Linked DNA regions of Homo sapiens: region 2 is linked to region 1. The links come from fine-mapping of genetic effects on gene expression. A gene starts in region 1. The other region holds a variant in brackets. All regions are shown on one strand. Distances are between the middles of the regions. Region 1 holds the start of HHAT (hedgehog acyltransferase). Region 2 overlaps HHAT (hedgehog acyltransferase).

Region 1 (5,375 bases):
AAACAAGCTCAGGGGTCCCACTGATTCTACTCTATGGTGAGTTGTATTCATATTACAATGTAATAATAATAGAAATAAAGTCCACAATAAATGTAATGCAGGTGGGGCATGGTGATTCACACCTGTAATCCCAGCACTTTGGGAGGCCAAGGAGAGGATGGCTTGAGCTCAGGAGTTCGAGCTCAGGAATTTGAGACCAGCCTGGTTGACATGGTGAAATCCTGTCTCTACTAAAAATACAAAAATTAGCCAGATGTGGTGTCGCATGCCTGTAAGCTACTCCGGAGGCTGAGGCACGAGAATTGCTTGATCCCCAGAGGTGGAGGTTGCAGTGAGCCAGTATCGTGCCACTGCACTCCAGCCTGGGTGACCCAGCGAGACTCTTGTCTCAAAACAAATAAATAAAATAAATGTAACGTGCTTGAATTATCCCAACACCATCCCCCTTCCCCCAGTCCATGAAAAACTTATTGTCCATGAAACCGGTCCTTGGTGCCAAAAAGGTTGGGGACCACTGCTTTAGGGAACATTCCCCCTGGGCCAGGTCCTAAGCTGGAAGCAGGGGGTGCAGGTAAGGCCCATGCTCGCAAGTTCCTGATGCTACCTACAGAGCTCCCACCAACATCTGGCCACCCACAAAAACGGCTGCTCCCTCCAAAGAATTGACTTTCACCCTAAGTTCATCCATCTAACCTACTTCCAAGGAGGGGGCAAAGTAAACAGTAGATAAAGCACAGGCGTTGATCCAAAAGAGGAGTCCAAAACCCGGCCCTGACATGTACTAGTTTGTGGCTTTGGCTCCCCTCCAAGGCTTTCTCTATCCTACTGTGAAAAGAGATAACAACACTTATCTTTCCCAGTTACTGTAAGGTTTAGAAATAATGTATCTAAAGCACCTAATAAGCACACAGTCTCCTTAAATTAACATTAATTGAATCTCTCAGGTCAGAGCTGTCCTTATCAAACAATCACAATTAGGGACTGACTGGCAACGAGAAAGGAGGGAGAAAAATCACAGGGAAAATGGAACATGAGGAATGGAAGGGGAAAAAAATCATTCCTCAAAGTCTCCTTCAATGAACTACCGCCTCTTCAATGAAGCCTTCCCTCTCCTCTCCTTGCATTCCCATAGCACTTAATCACATTGAAATAGGTCCTTAGCTCTGAGAATGAATGAGATGCCAGGCACGGTGGCTCACGCCTGTAATCCCAGCACTTTGGGAGGTCGAGGTGGGCAGATCACCCGAGGTCAGGAATTCGAGACCAGCCTGGCCAACACGGTGAGACCCTCGTCTCTACTAAAAATACAAAATTAGGTGGGCGTGGTGGCGCATGCCTGTAATCCCAGCTACTCAGGAGGCAAGGCTGGAGAATCGCTTGAAACCGGGATGCTGAGGTTGCAGTGAGCTGAGATTGTGCCATTGCACTCCAGCCTGGGCGACCAGAGCGAAACTCCGCCTCAAAAACACAAACAACAACAAAAACAGAAAGAGAAGCAATGTCTCACTCCCACGTAATGCAAACCTCTGAGGATGCCAAATGCCCTAGCCCTACAACCCTGATCCAAGAGCAATGTACACAGGTAGCAGCACATTTCTTAACACCAATGCTACCCGTAAAGTACCTCTGGTGAGGATTAGCGGGAGGGTTTTTCCGCATAAAGACCTGCCACCTGAAGGTTAGACTCAGAACAGAGGAAGAAAACTGAGTCCTGAAGATAGAACGCAAAGGAAGTCTCTAACTTTAGAGTCCCTGGAGTCACAGCAGGCAGGCAGGCGCACCGCCGATACTGCCAAGAGGACCAGAGTTCGCAACTCCCCGCAGCAGTTCCGGAAGCTGGGGACGAAGCCAAGGAGAGAGGACGTGGGCAGGGCCGTGCGCGGACTTGTCCCGGCGCCTAGATCCCCGCCTTTGCCCGGGCGCACTGCGCGCGCGGCCCCCGCCGCTTTTGTCTTCTTCGCCCGACCGGGAACTTCCTCTGTCCCGCCCTCGGGCGCGCACACGGGAACTTGGGTAGGAAACGGAAAGCGTTTTGTGCATTTTTTTTTTAACAGAGTAAACTGACGCAGAAAATTCAGCATCTAACCTCCCCAGGACCCCCTATGGTCACCAGTTACCAACCTCCGGGCTGTCCCGGGCGGCGGCGACGGCAACGTTCACGCGCGCCGCGAGTTCCCAACACCCCTCTTTCGGCACTTCCGAGTCCCAGCGACATCGGCGGCGGCTGCGGGCTTCCCCGGGACGCCACCCTCTTTCCCCCGGAGCTGCCCTTTGGAGGAGCAGCGCAGCGCGCGTCCTCCGAGCACGCCCCTGCCGCCGTGCCCGCGCGCCCTCCGCGCCCGGACTCGGGAACCCGCGGCGCTCTCCGGGCGATGGCGAGCAGGCCGTGCTGCTGCAGGGGGCGGGCCAGAGCGCGGCCTGCGTTTCTGAACCGCGTTTGCCCCGCCGGCGGCCCGGGGCCCCTAGCCCCGCTCACCCCTCGGCTGTTGGTTCCCACTGACCCTGGCGTGCATATCTCTCCCCCACCCGTGTGTTCATTGCAGGTCTGGGGCTGCCTGCAAGTTAATTGCAGAGTGGAAGTCACCTGAAACTCGAGGTGGGCCGTCATTCCAACACCAGTGGTCCCCACCTACGTTTTGTAGGCGAAAGGAGGTAGTTCGGTGCGGTGGAAAGAGGGTGGGCTTTGCAGCCCTGGCAGCTTCGAGGGCTTACTGTGTGAACTTAGCCCCTGTGAGCCTCCCTGTACACCTCTGTAAAACAGAAATAGACTTCCCTGCTTTTCTTTGTAAATTAGAGTGAAGATCAAATAGAATAAACTTTATGAATTGTAAAGCAACTTACAGAGATCACTACTGCAAAATGGGTACGAAGATTTTGATTGCGTTGTGAAAAGAGTGGAAGATCTGAAGATGCTCCAACGGGGTATAATTGGGACGATGTTGCTGCTCGGAGGCCTCCAAGCCTGAGCCAAGAGACAGGCTTGCCAGAGTTCTCCAGACTTATCTCAGCAGAATCACGTGGCTCTCATTAAAACCTCGGGCTTCTGGATCCCTCCCCAAACCAAAAGCATCAGACTGTCCATGGCAGGGGCGTCTCAGGTGGTTCTATGATAAGGTGAAGGTGGATAACTCTGCCCTAGGCAGCAGGGAAACTCGGAAGCTGTGCTCTCAGAAATTTCATCTAGCAGTCATTGTAATGGTCGAGAGGATTATTTTAATGATTTTAGAATTCTCCAGGAAACCAGAGTATGAACTCTCCAAGAGCTGGAGCTATCTTTTCTTTCTGCTTCCCCCCAACCCACTCACCCCAAAACCTGGTACTGGATGGTGTTCAGTAAGCAGGTGTTAGTAAACTAGCCCCAAATAGGAGTGCCAGATTTAGCAAATAAAAATACAGCATACTCAATTAAAATTGAATTTCAGGCTGGGCGCGGTGGCCCACGCCTGTAATCTCAGCACTTTAGGAGCGGTAGCAGGAGGATCACTTGAGGCCAGGAGTTTGAGACCAGCCTGGCCAACATGGTGAGACCCCGTCTCTACTAAAAATACAAAAATTAGCCGGGTGTGGTGGCCTGCACCTGTAATCCCAGCCACTTGGGAGGCTGAGGCACGAGAATCGCTTGAACCCGGGCGGCAGAGGTTGCAGTGAGCTCAGATCGCACCACTGCACTCCAACCTGGGTGACTGAGCCGGACTCTGTCTCAAAAAAATAAGTAAATAATTTCAGGTGAACAATATGTAACTTTTTAGTATCACTATGACCCATGCAATATTTGGGATATACTTATTTTTTTTAAGTACTTACAGGAAGCTTGTAATCCCAGCACTTTGGGAGGTCGAGGTGAGTAGATAACTTGAATCCAGGAGTTCGAGACCAGCCTGGCCAACATGATGAAACTCCATCTCTACCAAAAAAAAAAAAAAAAAATGGTATATCTGAAATTCAAATTTACATCCTGGGTATCTGAAAATCAAACTTAACTGGGTATTTTATCTGTCAACTCTAGATCCAAGGGTTTGGCAGAGGGAGTGGCAGAATAAGAACTCAACTCAGGTAGTGTCAAACTCAGGGACAGGGATGTGATAACAGCTCCTATATTATTTCTAAAAGATGCTGTTGTTAATATAGGTTCAGTGTGATTTACACTTAACCCCTGTCTACATATGCACTTTAAATTCACCGGCGAACACAAAGGAGATAAAGGCAGATTTAAACACAGGCAATCAGAAACATCAAATAAAAATAGCCAAAATTTATGTGTGTGTGTATATATATATATATATATATATATATATATATGTATGTATTAGAGACAGTCTCACTGTGTCACCCAGGCTAAGCACAGTGGCATGATCTCAGCTCACTGCAGATTCAAGCAATTCTTGTGCCTTAGCCACCTGAGTGGCTGGGATTACAGGCAAGCACCAGCCACCACACCTGGCTATTTAGTAGAGACAGGGTTTTGCCTTGTTGGCCAGGCTGGTCTCGAACTCCTGGCCTCAAGTGATGCACCTGCCTCAGCCTCCCAAAGTGCTGGGATTACAGGTGTGAGCCACCATGCTTGGCCATAATAGCCAAAATTTAAAGATAAGCAATAGACTGGGATATTTGCAAGAAATTTGCAAAGTGTTAATTTTAAAATTATATATAGAGTTAATACAATCAATAAGAAAACATTAGAAATCAATTATAGATGAGCAAGACACATTTATAGACAACCCACTAGAAAAAGGAGGAGGGAAATAAAAGTAGGAAACAAAAATATATTGCAAAAAGCTCAATGAAATGCATAGTAAAACAAGAACATGGTGGCTCACGCCTGTAATCCCAGCACTTTGGGAGGCCAAGGTGGGTGGATCACGAAGTCAGGAGATCAAGACCATCCTGGCTAACGTGGTGAAACCCCGTCTCTACTAAAAATACAAAAACAAAATTAGCCAGGCATCGTGGCGGGTGTCTGTAGTCCCAGCTACTCGGGAGGCTGAGGCAGGAGAATGGCGTGAACCCGGGAGGCAGAGGTTGCAGTGAGCCGAGATCGTGCCACTGCACTCCAGCCTGGGTGACTGAGCAAGACCCCGTCTCAAAAAAAAAAAAAAAAAAAAAAAAAACAAGAACACACAATTTTCACACATTAAGTTGGCAAAAAATTAATAAATAACATTACAGCCTGGCATGGGTGCTATGTGATAGCACTCACACACAATGTTTAGTTGGGTAAGCAATTTGGCAGTATGAAAACTTAAAATTTATCAAAATCTAAGGGAGGTGGGGCAAGATGCCAAATAGAAGCTTCCACCAATTGTCCTCCCTTCAAGAACAACAAAATGAACAACTATCAACAAAAAACACCTTAATAAGAACCAAAGATCAAGTGG
Region 2 (5,375 bases), 55 kb before region 1:
GAGCATATGTACATTAAAAGTTTGTAGCAGCACACAGTGCTATTAAACAGCAGTACCCGCTACTAACTGCTAGACCCATGTGCTTCCCATCCCTTGTAAACCACCAGCCAAGACCGTATCATGCTTTACTTTGTGCCACTCATTTTAAAAAAGTTTTCCCATTTCTTCAAATAAGGAAATACAATACTGCGCATTCTCAGATTACACATGCTCCCCACACCCCAGATCCTGATACATGACCTGCTCATAAAGCCCCTGTCCCTTGCTGGAAATCATGTATGTAGTTGAATTGCTTCCATTTAGAGATGACTACACCAGAGTCTGGGACATGCCCACAAACACACAGCCAGGCAGCACAGCAGAGAACTCAAAGCTTTAACCTGGCTCCTGATCCCTGATCCACAGCTTATTTCCCCATCTAGAGATTTCCAAATTAGCCAAGAGTCAATTAACTAAACAAATGTAAATAAGTTCAAAGGTCATGTGATGAGGCCATGCTAGTAAAATACCACTTTTATAACAGGGATACAGCTAAAAGACACAAAAGCCAAGACACTTTTTTAATACAAACTCAAAAAGAAAAAAAAAAAAAAAGAAAAACATATGAGCTTTTTAAATACAACATTTTTGAACACTTAGAATTACATTTAGAATTCATGACCCCAAGCTTACCTATGCCTCGAAACTTCTCCAAGTTTAATTTTTTAGGGTGGAAAAAAGGATATAATACAACAAAACATATAAGACTTTCTGTTCCACCAGAAAGTCCAGGACTCCTGAAAACTCTGCTGGTAAAATCCCATCAACAAAAATTACACATGGCCTTTCACCTCTAATTATCACAGAAAACATTCATTTAAAGGAAATAAAAATGTCTCTCTCATGTCTATTCTTCCCTATTTAAAAAAGTTACCTAAGGGAAATGACCAAACAGAAAAGCTGGGCCAATGAATAGGTCAAGATGATGTTTAATGATTTGGGTAAGAAAAATATTGACTCACTGCTTCTTGAAGCAAAAGCTTTATAGACTCTGAGCTCAGTCACACATTTCAAGGCAAACATGAAAGCCTGAAATCAGGAACAACATCATGATCTGTCCCTTCCCCCATTTTCTTTCTTGCCTCCATGGTTATTAGTCAATTAGGAACCTCTTCTTTGGCACTCTAAGGGGGTCAGATATAAACTGGAGCTAAATCTCAGCCAGGCAGAACTAGGCAGGCTTCTCCATGGAAGCAGGGAGGCTGTACTCCAAGGAGAAGTCACCCACATCCAACCTCAAAGTGGACACAAGCCACCTATGCATCTTGCTAAAATGCAGATTCTGATGCAGTCAATCAAGGGTGGGGCCTGGGATTCTATATTTCTAACAAGCTTCCAGGTGATGTGATACTACCAGCCTGGGGACCAATCTACATGACTGATTATGCCTTCCTACAGCTGAATGTTCATAAACTCACAGAATCCTTAACAGCTCAGCCCGCCCCGTACCATTCCCAGGCAGGGAGGGCACATACTCCGAAGCTGCTACCTAACACTCACCAACAGAGCAGTCATCCTCCCGTTCACCGTTCAAAGCTCTGGGCACCCAGACTTCGGAATTCACTGAACAAGTTAACAAATGTGGTTGTTTATTCTGAGGCTTACATTCTGCTACCAGGTAATACTAAGGACTCTGAGAGACATGATTGTTCTGGGTTTCTTAAATAGTAACTCTAACGTCCTAGCAAAACACTTTTTCCTTTCTTAACAAAGGAAAGGGTCTGGGCCTAGTGTTTGTAACTGCCTCTTTTCCTACCCACAGCAGAGTTCTGCTCTAGGCACCATGAGGAGCTCAAAGTCTAAATAGGAAGACCCCCAGCACCAAGACCACCACACCCCACAATGAAGACACACCAAAAACCCACTGCAGAATGAGAGGGGTAACAGTGCTGCAACTCAACTTCATATGTCAGTGAAACTGACAGACCTGTCCTTTCTTCCCAGTCACTGATGAACACTCGAGTATGTGTTTTCTAATTACAGCCTCATAACAATCTTTAAAGTAGCTCAATTTGTTTAACAGACCTTATCTTTTAGAGAGTTTTCAGTTCACAGAAGAATTAAGCACAATGTACAGAGAATTCCCATAGACCCCTTAACCCCTCTCCATCAGCATCTCCCACCACAGTAATATATTTGTTCCAACTGGTGAACCTACATTGATACCCCAAAGTCCATGGTTTATATTCGGGTTCACTCT[T/C]GATGTTGCATATTCTATGGGTTTGGACAGATGTATAAAAACACATATCCACCATTATCATATCATATGAAATAGTTTCACTGCCCTAAAAATCCTCTGTACTCTACCTCTTCATCCCTCCCACCCTGGCCCTGCTCCCCTCAATCCCTGGCAAACAATGATCTTTTTACTGTCTCCATATTTTACTTTTTCCAGGATGTCATGTAGCTGAAATAAATAAGTTTTGGGTTTTTTTCTTTTTATTTCGTCAGTGATTTGAAGCTCTTTTTTGAGACAGTCTCGCTCTGCTGCCCAGGCCGGAGTGCAATAGCACAACCTCGGCTCACTGCAATCTCTGCCTCCCAGGCTCAAGTGATTCTCGTGCCTCAGCCTCCCAAGTAGCTGGGACTACAGGTGCATACCACCACACCTGGCTAATTTTTGTAGTTTTAGTAGATACGGGGTTTCACCACATTGTCCAGGCTGGTCTCGAACTCCTGACCTCAAGAGATCCACCAGCCTCAGCCTCCCAAAGTGCTGGGATTACAGGCATAAGCCACCGTGCCCGGCCTGAAGCTCACTTTTTCTTTTTTCTTTTTTGAGTAGTTCTGTCTAACTCCGTGTTACAAATGAGTTAACTGGAGGTCAGAGAAAGCAGATTATTTATCCAAACCTAGTAAGGGGCAGAGCCGGGTTTCAAACCTAGGCCTGTCTGAAGCCAAGGAGGAAACCCTTTTCTGAGATGTTTCTACTCATGCTTGTCCCTGTACCTGGACTTTCTGCCCTTCCCACCCCTTTGCCCCACAACACTATTTGACTAGGCAATCTCCAACCTAGAGTGCACCTCATTTATGCCCCGTAACCACAAAGCCAGCCCAGTGACATGCACAAAATACTCACTAAATGGTACAATTCAAATGTCAGCTCCAGAGTGAAGCTTTCCCATACCTACCTCCCCAGGTGGACCTCATTGCACTCCCTTCTCCGTCATCCACATCTCAATTCTAGAACTTTTATTATGGCATATTTATTATATCACTTTTATTCCTGTATTTTCTCTCTGGAGGGAAAAATGGATCTCTCTGAGAGCAAGAACCTTGACTTAAATCTGTCTCCTAGATGCCCAACATTCAGCAAGCCTTTAAAATGGCGAGGAGCAGGAACGGAGCCAAAAAATCAGCCTATCTAGTACTTGTCACATTTCTCCCTCTGTTTAAACTTGGAAAAGTCACTTAACTATCTGGGATTGAATTTCCTTGTGTGTAAAATGAAGGGCTCCACTAGCACAATGTCTAAGATTCCTTTCAGAAAATGGGAAAGACAATTATTTTCTAGGCTAAAGGAAAGAAATACTAAGAAAGTGCTTGTCACCCACCCGTGGAGAAGGGGTCGTCCCCTCTTCTCACACCCCTATGTCACTAGGGAAGAAAGTTACAAGAAAAAATTCCTGGCAAATGAGGACTTGCCCTAGCAACTCACCACTGAGTAAATCTTTCCTCCTTCTAGCCTTGAATTCTCATCGCCCTTAAACCTTGCCAGATCACAACTCACTCTCAGCCTCTTAGCTGGAGTACTGTGTTGTTATCACAAGAGATGGCTAAAATTCTGGTTCTGTGCTTTCTCTTGCATTCCCCAGAAAACTGAGGACTATTCTCCAGCTGAAAACAACACAAACGCATAGCTAATAAGGCCTGGTCAATAGACTAAAATGTAAAGTACCAAGCCAAGTGCCAAGGCACTCACCGAGACGCCCTAAGTGAATGAGAGAAATTCACCCTGTAGCCACATCAGTTAGCTCAGTCCACCAGTTCTTCAACCCAGATCCCTGGTCCCACTGTTTTTGGAGTCTTTTTGGATTTTTTTTGTAATCAGTCCATGACCTGCTGAATAGTTCCACTGTTTATCTCCTAGTGAGATGGGTCAGGAGCACTGTTTTATTATGTCTATGGATGGTATTTGCAGATAGTTTGCTATCAGCTCAGAAGTTTACATCTACAAATGAAGCAGAGTCTAAGAAAGGCCATGGGTAAGCCTTAAAAATGATTTGAGGCCGGGTGCAGTAGCTCATGCCTGTAATCCCAGCACTTTGGAAAGCTAAGGTGGGTGGATAGCTTGAGGCCAGGAGCTCGAGACCAGCCTGGCCAACATGGTGAAACCCCATCTCTACTAAAAATACAAATATTAGCTGGGAGTGCTGGCGCATACTTACAATCTCAGCTACTCGGGAGGCTGAGACATGAAAATCACTTGAACCTGGGAGGTGGAGGTTGCAGTGAACTGAGATCATGTCACTGCACTCCAACCTAGGTAACAGAGCAAGACTCTGTCTCAGAAAAATAAAAGTAAAAAATTTTTTTAAATGACCCACTGCATAATCATTCAAATCTTTCAATAAATTTTATTAAGCATCTAGTATATGCTGCTTCATATAGTCAATCACAGCATATCAATTAGGCTTTGTTATCCAGGAAAGTCTTGGAGTTACTGCAAAATCGTTTTCCTCCCCGTACTATATGCTAGACCTACTTCAATTCCGCAGACTGTGCTCTACTCACTTCTACCCATTTAGCCTTATTCCTTCCATTCCATGCTCCCTACACAGCACCAAAGTAATATTTTTAAGAGCATATTTGATCATGTTATTTCCCCCACTTAATATTCTTCATGTGCTCCCCTTAGCATTCCAGAGAAACTTCTCAGTGAGACTCATGCAGTTCTTCATAAAATGGCCCTGTCCCCCTGTCCACCCTTCCATCGTCGTACCTAACCTTCACTGCCCCCACCATCCCACATTACAACTGCATTGACCCCTCTGACCCCACAGCACCACATTCATGCAGCTGGGCCTCCCACACTTTGCTCCCTCTATTTGGAAAAACCATCACTGAAGCATCATGTGAATGAGGACATATCTTTCAGGTCTCAGCTCAGGCAAGCCTTCTCCCAGGAAGCCTTTAGTAGTCCATCCATTCAGCCTGGACTCGGTGTCCCTTGCCTATGCTCCCACAATATGCCACTACGGTTACCTGTAACAAAGCAACTTATCCCATTGTGCTTTTTAAAATTTTATTTTATTTTATTTATTTTTTGCGACAGAGTCTTGCTCTGTCGCCCAGGCTGGAGTGCAGTGGCATGATCTCGGCTCACTGCAACCTCC

What was found. PIP is the estimated chance that this variant, and not a neighbour inherited with it, causes the effect.
Region 2: its variant is the best candidate, but not a certain one, in a credible set for the expression of HHAT in caudate (GTEx, PIP 0.73).

Annotation. Positions count from the first base shown.
Region 1 is chr1:210,325,851-210,331,225 of GRCh38, reverse strand. It overlaps HHAT (hedgehog acyltransferase), which reads right to left and starts at 2,324. Exons shown (of 12, transcript NM_018194.6): 1 at 2,122-2,324. RefSeq lists enhancers at 466-635, 1,748-2,107, 2,982-3,151 and a silencer at 2,268-2,517.
Region 2 is chr1:210,380,472-210,385,846 of GRCh38, reverse strand. All of the region lies in intron 3 of HHAT (hedgehog acyltransferase), which reads right to left. Among named protein-coding and RNA genes, the nearest start is that of HHAT, 54 kb to the right of the region's middle. The variant T/C (reference allele first, on the strand shown) is at 2,240.